2 separate regions of the Homo sapiens genome follow, and region 2 is linked to region 1. Evidence: fine-mapped expression QTL. A gene starts in region 1. The other region holds a variant in brackets. All regions are shown on one strand. Distances are from middle to middle. Region 1 holds the start of RBM18 (RNA binding motif protein 18). Region 2 overlaps RBM18 (RNA binding motif protein 18).

Region 1 (5,384 bases):
ATTCTCCAGGGGAAGAGTTTTGGTTTCTGCTTCCATCAATGTCTATGAAATACTAAAGGAAATGTGAACATTCAGGCAGGAGGGGAGTAACAATGTGTGAACACAAGACTTCAAATTCAACTCAACAAACATTTATTCAAGGAGGGCATGCCCTCTGGGCAGTCCTTCAAAGGCCTCAGTGATTCCACAACCAGGGCCCCAGAACCAGTTCCCTTGGGACAACTGCTCTGGCAGCCAGGGCACACAAGCTGCCATTTAAGGTGAAAGGGGCGTGGTTCTGTGTGGAGAAACTAAAGTTTTCCTCCTCTGAAGCCAGAGGCTGACTGGGCAGGAGGCCAAAGTCTCTATTACTACATGATACTTCAGTTCAACAACTGTCACCCAAAATAAGCCTTGGAAACCACCAGGAAGAGTCTTAATGGCATTAAAAGGGATGGGTAGGGAAGAGCAGCACTCCATCCCTTTTCCTCATGGAAGAGGCAATATAGCAAAGAGAAGAGGCAATATAGCAAAGAGAAGAGGCAATATAAGAAATCTGTGCGTAGACAGAACTGGGTTTGAAAGCAGGTTGTGTGACTTGATGAACTACCTGAACTTTCTAGGCCTCAGTTTCCTCATTATCTAGAGAGATAATAGTGCTTATTTTATAGAGTTGTTGTGAAGATTAAAGACAGTAAAAAAATCACTAAATACTGTATCTAACAACAGTAAGTAATCAATAAATACTAGCTATTATCATGCTTACTCTTTTGGGACAGACCAGGAAGAAGAGACTAATTTCCTCCTTAGTTATTCAAGTTCCACCATTTGCTAGCTATGTAGCCCTGTGCAAGTTACTTAACAGCTGTTGGCCTCAGTTCCCTCATCTGTAAAATGGGGATAATGCCTCATGAAATTACAGTGCAGATTCACTGAGTTAATACACCTAGAGCATTTAGAACCGTGCATGGCACCTAGGAAGCATTCAATTAATGTTAGCTTAAATTATTACTAGTCTTAGTTCCTGAAATGTCTCATCTCACAGCCAAGGAGAAAAGAGGATTATGATTATGATGGAGACAGCAGTAGAAAGAGCAGAAACCTTGGTGTCAGAAGACATTGTTTCAAATTGTGGCATTTCTTTCTTTCTCTTTTTTTTTGTTTTTGAGACAGACTCTCGCTCTGTTGCCCAGACTCATGGGCGGTGGCACGATCTCGGCTCACTACAACTTCCACTTCCCGGGTTCAAGCAATTCTCATGCCTCAGCCTCCCGAGTAGCTGGGATTACAGGTGCATGCCACTAAGCCTGTCTAATTTTTGTATTTTCTTGTAGAGGCAGGGTTTCACTATGTTGGCCAGGCTGGTCTCCAACTCCTGACCCCAAGTGATCCATCCACGTCGGCCTCTCAAAGTGCTGGGATTACAGGTGTGAGCCACCATGCCCAGCACAAACTGTGGCATTTCCACTGGAAGTTATTTCTTTCTGAGCTTCAGTTTACCCATCTTTAATAAATTTTGCCCTGTTTATAACTTAAGGCTTCGAGGACCAAAAATGAGACGACAGATGTGAAATAAAGCTTTAGGGGCTGGGAGGACAGCAGGCTGTGTCAGAGTTCAGAAGTCCCTGCTAGAGAACACATATCCTATACCCAGAAGTACCTCAGAGGTCAGCACTACAGGAACCATGGAGGCAGTCACAACAACTGCCATTACCTCTTAATCATCTCAGCACACCCTGTAAAGTCTAGCACAGCAGTCCCTAGGTAATTGTTTATTGAATACCCTGCACATGAGGGTATTTTTCTTCCTTTCCCATTCACATCTTTAATCTGTTCAGCAATGTAAGTCAAGCAACTAGGAACTGTTAAACTCTGGGCTATGTACTGAAATAGACAAATGAAAAAGCCACAGCTCTTGTTCTTACCTCCTGGGAGAAAGGTGAAACAGACATAAATTTAATCCCAGGGGAGACACATTTTTGTCTTCCCTCTGCTTTCCTTTCCCCCTACTTTTTAAACAAATCATTCATTCAAAAAATAAATTCACTGCTTCTATTATCTAGGACTTATCCAGTTACTGGAGTCAGAGCAGTGAACAAGCAAGGTCCCTATCCTCTGGATGCTTGTATTTGGAAGGGGAGCAGGACAAAACAAAAGCAAAATAAATAAAGAAGATATAATTAGTGATACATGCCACAAACACAATTAAGCAGGGTGATGTGACAGGGACTCGACGACTATAGATTGAGTGGAGGGAAGGCCTCTCTAAAGGAGATGACATTTGGGACTTGAATGATAGGACATTCTGATTTTCTCATGTCTAAAATCAGGAATAATACCAATAGCTATTAATATTTATTACCACGAAAAGGTACCATGTTTTACTGGTAAGAGTGCAGGCTATGCGGGTCTGGGTTCAAATCCTGACTTTTGCACCTAGTAACTGCACCTTTAGCAAGTCACATGACCTTTCTTTAAGCATCCTCTCGATAGAAAAGCTTTCCTAAACAGAGTTCCTTGTTATTCTATATCATAGCCACTTTTCCATCTTTTTCCTCCTACTAAATGCTAATTCAATGTATTACTTAATGTTTCCTCTTCTATTTCCTTCACTAGAACGTAAGCTCCCACAGCACAGGACCTTGCCAATCTTGATCACGGTTCTATTTCTAGCACTTAAGTACACTGCCTGTCTCACGGTTGGTGCTTAATATTTACTAAATGAAGCAAGCCGCTTCTCCACTCGAAGACTTAGTTTCTTTTTCCTTCCTAGAATGGGTACAATTTGTCGTCTCACGAGGTCGTTGTGAGTCTTAAATAAGACAATTTTGGTGACAGCTCAGAATATGGCTTTTTGAGGAAAGGTAAAGGGTAATAAAAGATCAAGACGGCACGGGACTATCAAAATGCTTTGCGTTTGCAATAGCAACAATCCTTTAGACTACCAGAGTTCACAAAACGCGGTTACATTTGTCTTTCCAGCTGAGCTGCAATAACTCTGGAAGCCAGAAATAGTCATCTGGGGAAAGTGCAATCCAGAGAAGAAGAGACACCTGATCCTAACAGCAAGCGGTGGGGTCATGCCTGGAACCCTGGCTTCCCGATTTCTGGCTGCGAATTCCTACAGGCGAAGGGTCATTACTCGGATTGTTATTTCCGGGCCAGCGACAGGACAATCCGGGGCGGGGCCTGAGATGCAGTCCTGCGAGGGCGGCCTCCTGTAAGACCTCTTAGCGGGCCCATCGCTGAGGTGCAGGGACATGTCGCGGCCGAACTCACCTCGTGGCCTCGGCGTGGTGCTCTCAGCTCATGCCCGGAAACCAGGTCCCGACGCCGCGGTCAGACGGACCTCTAGACGCGTCCGCCTCAATGCCGCCAGCTGCCAGGCCGCCCGTGACGCGTTAAGCCTGCGCCGCCTCCTGGCTTCGTGACGTCACGACGTCCGCGCAGCTGCGGTCGCCGCCGTCGCACGAGTCTTTCCTTAGTAACCTGGGCGATAGCTGGTGAGTGTCCTTGACAGGGCCTCGAGGGGCGCGTGTGGTCTGGGTGCCAGAGACCCTTACTCAGGGACCTCTGGGGGACCTCAGGGGACCAGACTACCGTCCCCGACCCGTTCGAGTCCAGCTTGACCTTTAAGGCTGAGGGCGGGACCTGTGGCATTGGAGCGAGTCTCATGGGGTGGGGGCGGGGCTCCTTTTACCAGCTAGGAATTTAGGGGATGCTGGAGGAACTTACTAAAGAGTAGCCGCACACTTGACGGGAACGTTTGAGTTTCAGAACAATCCCATAGGAGTAGATATTATTATCTCCCATAATGAAGAAACGGAAGCTCACATAGGTAATTTTACCAGGGTCACGCGGTCAGAAAGTGAGGGCGCTTAAATTCAGACCTAGGGCTATCCGACTCCTAAGCCTGGACTTTTAACCACCACTCTGTGCCACCCAGTGGCAAAACAGTTGTCATTTCAGTAGCCCTTCTCCATTTACTTAACCCTGACAAATAGTATTGTCATTTACGTTTTACAGATGAGACGGAAGTCCTGAGAGTTTGACCGATTTAAGGTCACGTGCCTAGGAAGTGCTGGAACCAAGACTCGGAGTTTTCTCTAAGTTTAGTGCCTTTATTTTGTTTTAAACCACACTGTTGCATTTCCCCCCATTTTGGAAAGCTTTATAGTTGGAAAGAATGAAAACCTGATCTGACCCCTTCATTTTATGGTTGAAACAAAATCTACGTAGGAGAAATCACTTGGTACAAGTCACAAGTCAGTGGTAGAGCTGCCGCAAATGCTTTTTGAATACGTGTGATTATGAATCTAAATGGCAGATGGCAGGGAGTGATAAGGTAGGCATACTGGAATCCAGATCTCTTAACTCTTAGGCAAAAGCCCTTTCTCTACCTGTTAAAGTGTCTCATTCCTTCTTTGGCCGTGCCAGGTGCATAATGATTCTGTGTATAGTCAGATACTACAAGTACCTTTCTTTACCTGGTACTGCATTTAGAGAAGAACATCATCTACTATCTCTAAGCAAAAATCTGGCAAACCAGAGACAGTGGAGGCAACGCTGGGAAGCCCAGAACCTACCATAATAGTAAGGGTAGATTCCCATCCGATTCTGGTTTACCCTGGATAAGGAATTTATCTTTCTGGACTTTCACTGATGTATTCATCACATTCACAGTGTCTTCTGTGTTCTGGCAATGTACCAGGTACTGGGGATACAGCAGTGAACAAGAAAATCATAGATTAGTCCTTGTAGTACTTAGAGTCATATGGAGGGAATTAGACAATCAAATAATTACACAAATGTTAGCTTGTATTGTTAAGAATTAAGTGCTATGATGAAGTAAAGGGTGCTATGAAAGCAGACTACAGGACACTTGACCTAGTTGGGCTGTAGGAGATGGCCAAGGAAGCCGTCCTCTGAGGAAGTGATGGTTAAGCTGAAATCTGAAATAAAAACGGAGACAAACAGTTAAAGAGGTGAGGGAAGATCATCAAGGAGATTCAATGGCATGTTTGAAGACCCTGGAGCAGGGGGAGCCCTGGAGAAGTGAAAGATCACTTTTCTTATTTTGCAAAATACGGGTGGTGATTATCACTCTTTAGTTATGAGAACCAGTTAAGATGGTACATGTGAAAGTATTTTATATGCAAGAGCCTGCGTATATGCACACTCATAGAAGTGCTTATGTTATAAGCTAGTATACAGCTGCATTGAAAAGAGTTGCTGGGACAGTAGATAAGCCAGGATTTTGGGTTGGTCATCTAGCCAAAATTAAAATGAACCTTCTGTGAAGAACAGGGAAATCGTTTGAGACCCTCAACTTTGGAAAAAGAATGTGTGCTTCAAGTAGTTTAAAAAAATATTTCAGTCTGTAATCTCAGCACATTGGGAGGCCC
Region 2 (5,384 bases), 24 kb before region 1:
GATAGCCTTAAGCAGTACAGTGATGCCACTAGGGCTGGCACAGCCAGTTCTCTATCCCAAAAGATGTGTAAGGGGTCAGAGACATTGACTAAGAAACAATATTCGGTGCACATCATTCTGACATCTGTTGCTTTTATTCTCTGCATTAATACGAGAATTTTAGAAAACACATTTCCAGTCATGGAATATTGTTTAGAGTAGGGTTTGGCAAATTTTTCCTGTAAAGGGACCGATAGTATATATTTCAGGTTTTGTAGGCCACAGTCTTCATTGCCAACTATTCAACTCTTCTATTATATGGGGAAAACAGCCACATGTAAATGCCTGGGCATGGTTGTGTTCTAATAGTTATTAACATACACTGAGATTTGAATTTCGTATCATTTTCATGTCACAATATAGTATATATATTTTGTTTACTTTTTTTCTCAACCACTCGAAAATGAAAAAAAAATCATTCTTAACTTGTAGGCTATACAAAATTAGGAGGCAGAGGCCAGTTTGCTGAACACTGGACTAGATGTTTGCAGGCCTGGGTTCTACCTAAAGCTCTCCCATTAACCAGGTGACCCTGGCCAAATCGCTTTGTCTCTCTGGGTTCCCGTTTTCCCCATCTGGACAATGAGGGGGCTATATGAGATGGTCTCTTAAGGCCCTTTGGCTCTCAAATACCAGAATTCTTGTAGTTTATCCAACAAATATTTATTGAGTATGTATGATGTACAGCCATTGTTTTAAATGCTGAGGGTATAGCAGTGATATACAGTTCCTGCTTACATGAAACTTACATTCCAATAAAAAGAGACAAAAAAAAATTTAGATATAATGTTGGTTAGCGGTAAGTGCTTTTGAGAAAATCGTGAGGAAAGGATTGGAGAGTGACAGGTTGTAATTTTAAGAGGGAGGCCGGGGACTGCCTCTTGATCATTAACATTTGAGCAGAGACATGAGTCAGGTGAGAGAGCGGGCTCTGCGGCTATCTGGAGAAAGAGCGTTCTAAGCTAAGGCAACAGCCAATGTAAATGCCTTGAAGTAGAAGCTCCCTTGTATTCAAAGAATAGCAAGAAGGCCAACGTGGCTGCAGTACACCGCACAAGGGGAGAACAGTAGGCTATAGGGTCAGACACGTAGTGAAGGACAGGTCATTAGGGCCTTACAGATCTTTCAATTTTTTCTAGGCTGTGATGGAAAGCCACAAAGAAGAGAATCACATTTTAAAATAATTTTTTTAAAAATTGCTTTGGCTACTGTGTGGAAAACGGACCCTAAAGAATCAATAGCAGAGGCAGGGAGATAATTAGGAAGGTATTGTAATAGTCCAGGGAAGAGATGATGGTGGCTTTAAGAAAAATGGTGGTAGTGTTGGAGGTGGTGAGATGGCTGGATTCAAGAGGCATTTGGAAGGTAGAGTTGACAGGATTTGTTGAAGAACTAGATAGGAGCTGGAGAGAAAAAGAGAAAACAGGGATAAGCATGCTGGGACTAAATCATATTTTAGGAACAAATGATTACATATAGGAAATGTTTGACATTTAATTTATAAGGCAAGAATTACTCCTGTTCTTTTATGTAGTAGTATAAAAGAATCACAGATATATTTGTTGATTCAGAAACTGTGCATATCTTAATAAACAAGAGACAGAGCTGCAGAATACCTGGTTTCATACAACTTGTGCAACTGATTTTTGACCTGTTTTGTTTTTGTTTTTTTTGAGACGGTGTCTCACTCTGTTGCCCAGGCTGGAGTGCAGTGGCACAATCTCGGCTCACTGGAACCTCTACCTCCTGGGTTCAAGCGATTCTTGTGCCTCAGCTGACATGCTTTGAAAAATCTTTCCTCATGTGATACTCCTCCCCAGTACTAAGATACCAATTATAGAAAATCAACTGGTTAGGATTACATTTTGCATTTGATAAAATAGGAATTGAGATGAAGAAAATAGTTCATACGTCTCTCCTCAGTATTTCCTTCAATTCTTCACTCTTGTATATAAATCAAAATTATAAGTGACATAATTTTAGCAAACCAAAATAACCAGTAAACCAAAGAATAATTTTACTTAAAGTACAGACAACCTCCTAACAAAGAGTTGACCAAGTTAACACCTGAAATTTAAAAACCTTTCATCAGACTGCTTTCAGCATATTTAGGATACATACATTTCTTCTTTTGAAATCTCTACCACGAGAGACTAAACACAGTACGATACTTGCAGAGATTTCCATTAACAACTTCTTTTCAAATAGTGACATTTGCAATGGAAACAGCTGGTCTCTATTCTCATCTCTAACAACAGAGGTAGGCAGGCATAAAGGGTAAAGAGAGTTGCCTCTCAGTTTGACTCTCTAGCCAGAACCCTCTGCAGAGAAGGCACTTAGAAGAAGCACCCCACGTGGACATGCTGGCCAGAGTCCTGAGTGGAAACAAGCCTGTCAGAGAACTGCAGTCTATGCCAGTAAGTGAACGAGAGAAGA[T/C]ATAACCACACGGACACCGTCTTACATTTATTCACACAGAGGGATAAGAATCAGTACAAATAATAAACAGTGCTTTAAATACAAATAAATAGCTCTGGTTTCTAAAGGAAACAACTCTATATATAATTCTAAGTTTTTTCTAAGTTCCTATTAAAAATAGAAGACTATTTTGCACTATGTAAGTTCTAGTCCACCATAATCCTTTGAAGACTTACGGATAAAATGGTGAATTCTATACTCCAAGAAGTCACCAGAAAAATGGGAGATAATGCTCCTACCTCTCTGAACTATCCCCCAAATAGGAGGAGAGTTACTTGCATCATAGACAGACACAGCTAATACATACAGAAAGTATTTGATGTCTAGAGATATTTAAAAAGATTAACCTTGGGAAAAGTAAAAAGAATTTCCTTAAACCAGTTTTATGAATTCTAAAACCTCCCTCTACTGAAGTTTTGATTCAAATGTCTTAAATTCATTTATACTCATGGGAAGATGTTAAGTTCCTATATTGAAAGCTTCCTCTTGCTAACAACGATAGTGATAAACATTCTGTCATCACCAAGAATGGCACCTGGAGTAACAAAGTGATACATACCTGGTAAAGGAGCAAAGGTGCTGCCCAATTAAACAGTATGTCAAACTTGGCATCAAAATGACCAAAATGTGCTGAAGAAACACATCCCTAAATCTGTTGGTTGACTTATCTTTCTCTATTGTTATATTCAGGATGCTTAGAGTGACAAACATATCTAGAGGCAAGTATGTTCTCCAAGTGAAGAATCATTTCCAAGGCATGCAGTCCTTTAAAACTACCTACCACACAGAGTCATTACAGTCTTGGTGCCACAGTGGCATCTGTTCCATTGACTTTCTGTGCCCACTGCATGTCCTCTCCTCGTCCTGCACAAGATAATGCAATCTCTTCCACTTAGACCGCTACACAATTATTAGAAAATTGTATGTTTGATAGTGACCAATATAGCAATGTTTAGGTTTTCAAAGAAATTTTGCTTTTTCTATTTAGACTGACCATGATATAATTCCAAACAGAACATTCTCATGCTATAAAAACAATCCCATGCAATAAATGTAATTTTAAAAGTCCCATGATAATAGCAACATTTGTTATTATAGAAGGCATGGTTATTTAGATTTGAAAAAAATGGTTGCTATAGAATAAAAGTTCAATTTCCAAATAGAACTTGTGTTGTGGTATAAAATGTTAAATTTGATTCTAGTTTTGTCAACACAAACAATTTTAAGATATACACCATGTTTTCCTAGTTGGGATTTTGAAACAATAAGCATAATTCTTAAACAGATTACTACAACATTTGTTCAAAGAATCAGCTCCTTTTTGCCAAGAACTTTCTCTTTTTCAGTCCAGTTGGAGGGATTGCCGTAGTAAATTCTGGAACAACAGTTCTGAACATGATTTAAAATCTGTCTCTCACTTCCCTCCCTGCCTTTTACTTTTTCTTTATGTTGTAAAAGACACACGAGCGTAGAAAAATGCTCAATTTTTTAATAGATGTTAATATTTTTAGTTTCCTGATTTAAATAATATTTTGTGTATTTGCCTTTTGCTCTGGCACACTATAGAATGTTTCTGGAGTTACAAATCCAAACCAACCAGCCAATTAGAGCATCCCAGGGTTCAAATCACAATTTGGGATACAACGCTATTTATTCTGGATGATGCTCAATTCCATACATAGTTTAGGGAAGAAACATCCATAAGAACATCCAAAAACATTATGTTACCAAATGCTAACATGTGATTGTGCTCCGTTGAATAGTACCATTCACATCTACAAAGTACACAGGCAGACGATTTTAGGTGTGGAGACCAATTTGCTTTTGCTGCTACAGTAATTCACAACCATCATCTTCGAGATTTCCATGCTGTTCTAGAATATGGAGTAGTCCTTTTTTTATCTGGTGGCTTAAAGTAGGAATAAACAGGCGCTGCTGGATACTCTGCATCAGGATTTTCCGCCATCATTTTCAGTTTTGCTTCAATGGCTTTTATCTTTGCAGTGACACTGGAAAAATAATAGCAGAGGATCAGAGTGGGCCTAGGTATATTCAGAAAATAGCTGTACAGTTCCTCTCCTTGAGCCTCTTGGGAATATTAGAGACGCAACAAGATACTAAATTACAGACATTTAAACATTTTATATAAAAGCCAGAAATAACTAATTCTCTCATTCTAAGAAACAGATCAAGTCTGAGCCATCTATTAAGTTTTTAACATAAGCCTGGACATTGTTGGGAGTACTTCATATAGTTCTACATTTAATCCTCAGACGCAGACACTGTTAGCACCTTAATGCTTGGCAGAGAGTAGGTACTAAAAATAATTCTTTTAGAATTGAAAACAACATTATAAGATAGGTTATATTCCTTATTTTGCAGATGATGTAACTGAGGCACAGAAAGGTTCATTTGCCCAATGTTACACAGCAAGTAAACGATAGAGCAGAGATTTGAATACAAACTGACTCAAAAGCCCAGGTTTCACCTGAATCACTGAATAAAAATGGAAAAAAAACATTCTGGAAATCCTATACAATCTCTTTTTACTGATGAATGCATGTTAATAAAAACTATCATTTACAAAGTGCTTACAATGAGCCAGGCACAGTGCATTTTACTTATACTGTTTTTTTTTTTTTAGACAGGGTCTTGTTCTGCCACCAAGGCTGTAATACAGTGGTGCCATCATAGCTTACTAAAACCTTGAACTCCTGAGCTCAAGCAACCCTACTGCCTCAGCCTCGTGAGTAGGTAGGGCTACAGGCACACACCACCACATCCATCTGAATTTGTTTTTGTTTTTGTTTTGAGATGGAGTCTCGCTGTGTCGTCAGGCTGGAGTGCAGTGGTGTGATTTCGGCTCACTG

Evidence for each region. PIP is the estimated chance that this variant, and not a neighbour inherited with it, causes the effect.
Region 2: its variant is the best candidate, but not a certain one, in a credible set for the expression of RBM18 in tibial artery (GTEx, PIP 0.55).

What each region holds. Positions count from the first base shown.
Region 1 is chr9:122,261,457-122,266,840 of GRCh38, forward strand. RBM18 (RNA binding motif protein 18) reads right to left here and starts at 3,384. Exons shown (of 6, transcript NM_033117.4): 1 at 3,259-3,384; 2 at 1-52. The coding sequence starts at 36. It overlaps MRRF (mitochondrial ribosome recycling factor), which reads left to right and starts at 3,426. Exons shown (of 7, transcript NM_138777.5): 1 at 3,426-3,482. RefSeq lists enhancers at 2,566-3,537, 2,916-4,115, 3,538-4,508, 3,684-3,843.
Region 2 is chr9:122,237,521-122,242,904 of GRCh38, forward strand. RBM18 (RNA binding motif protein 18) reads right to left here. Exons shown (of 6, transcript NM_033117.4): 6 at 102-4,523. The coding sequence ends at 4,364. Among named protein-coding and RNA genes, the nearest start is that of LHX6, 11 kb to the left of the region's middle. RefSeq lists a silencer at 1-16. The variant T/C (reference allele first, on the strand shown) is at 2,476.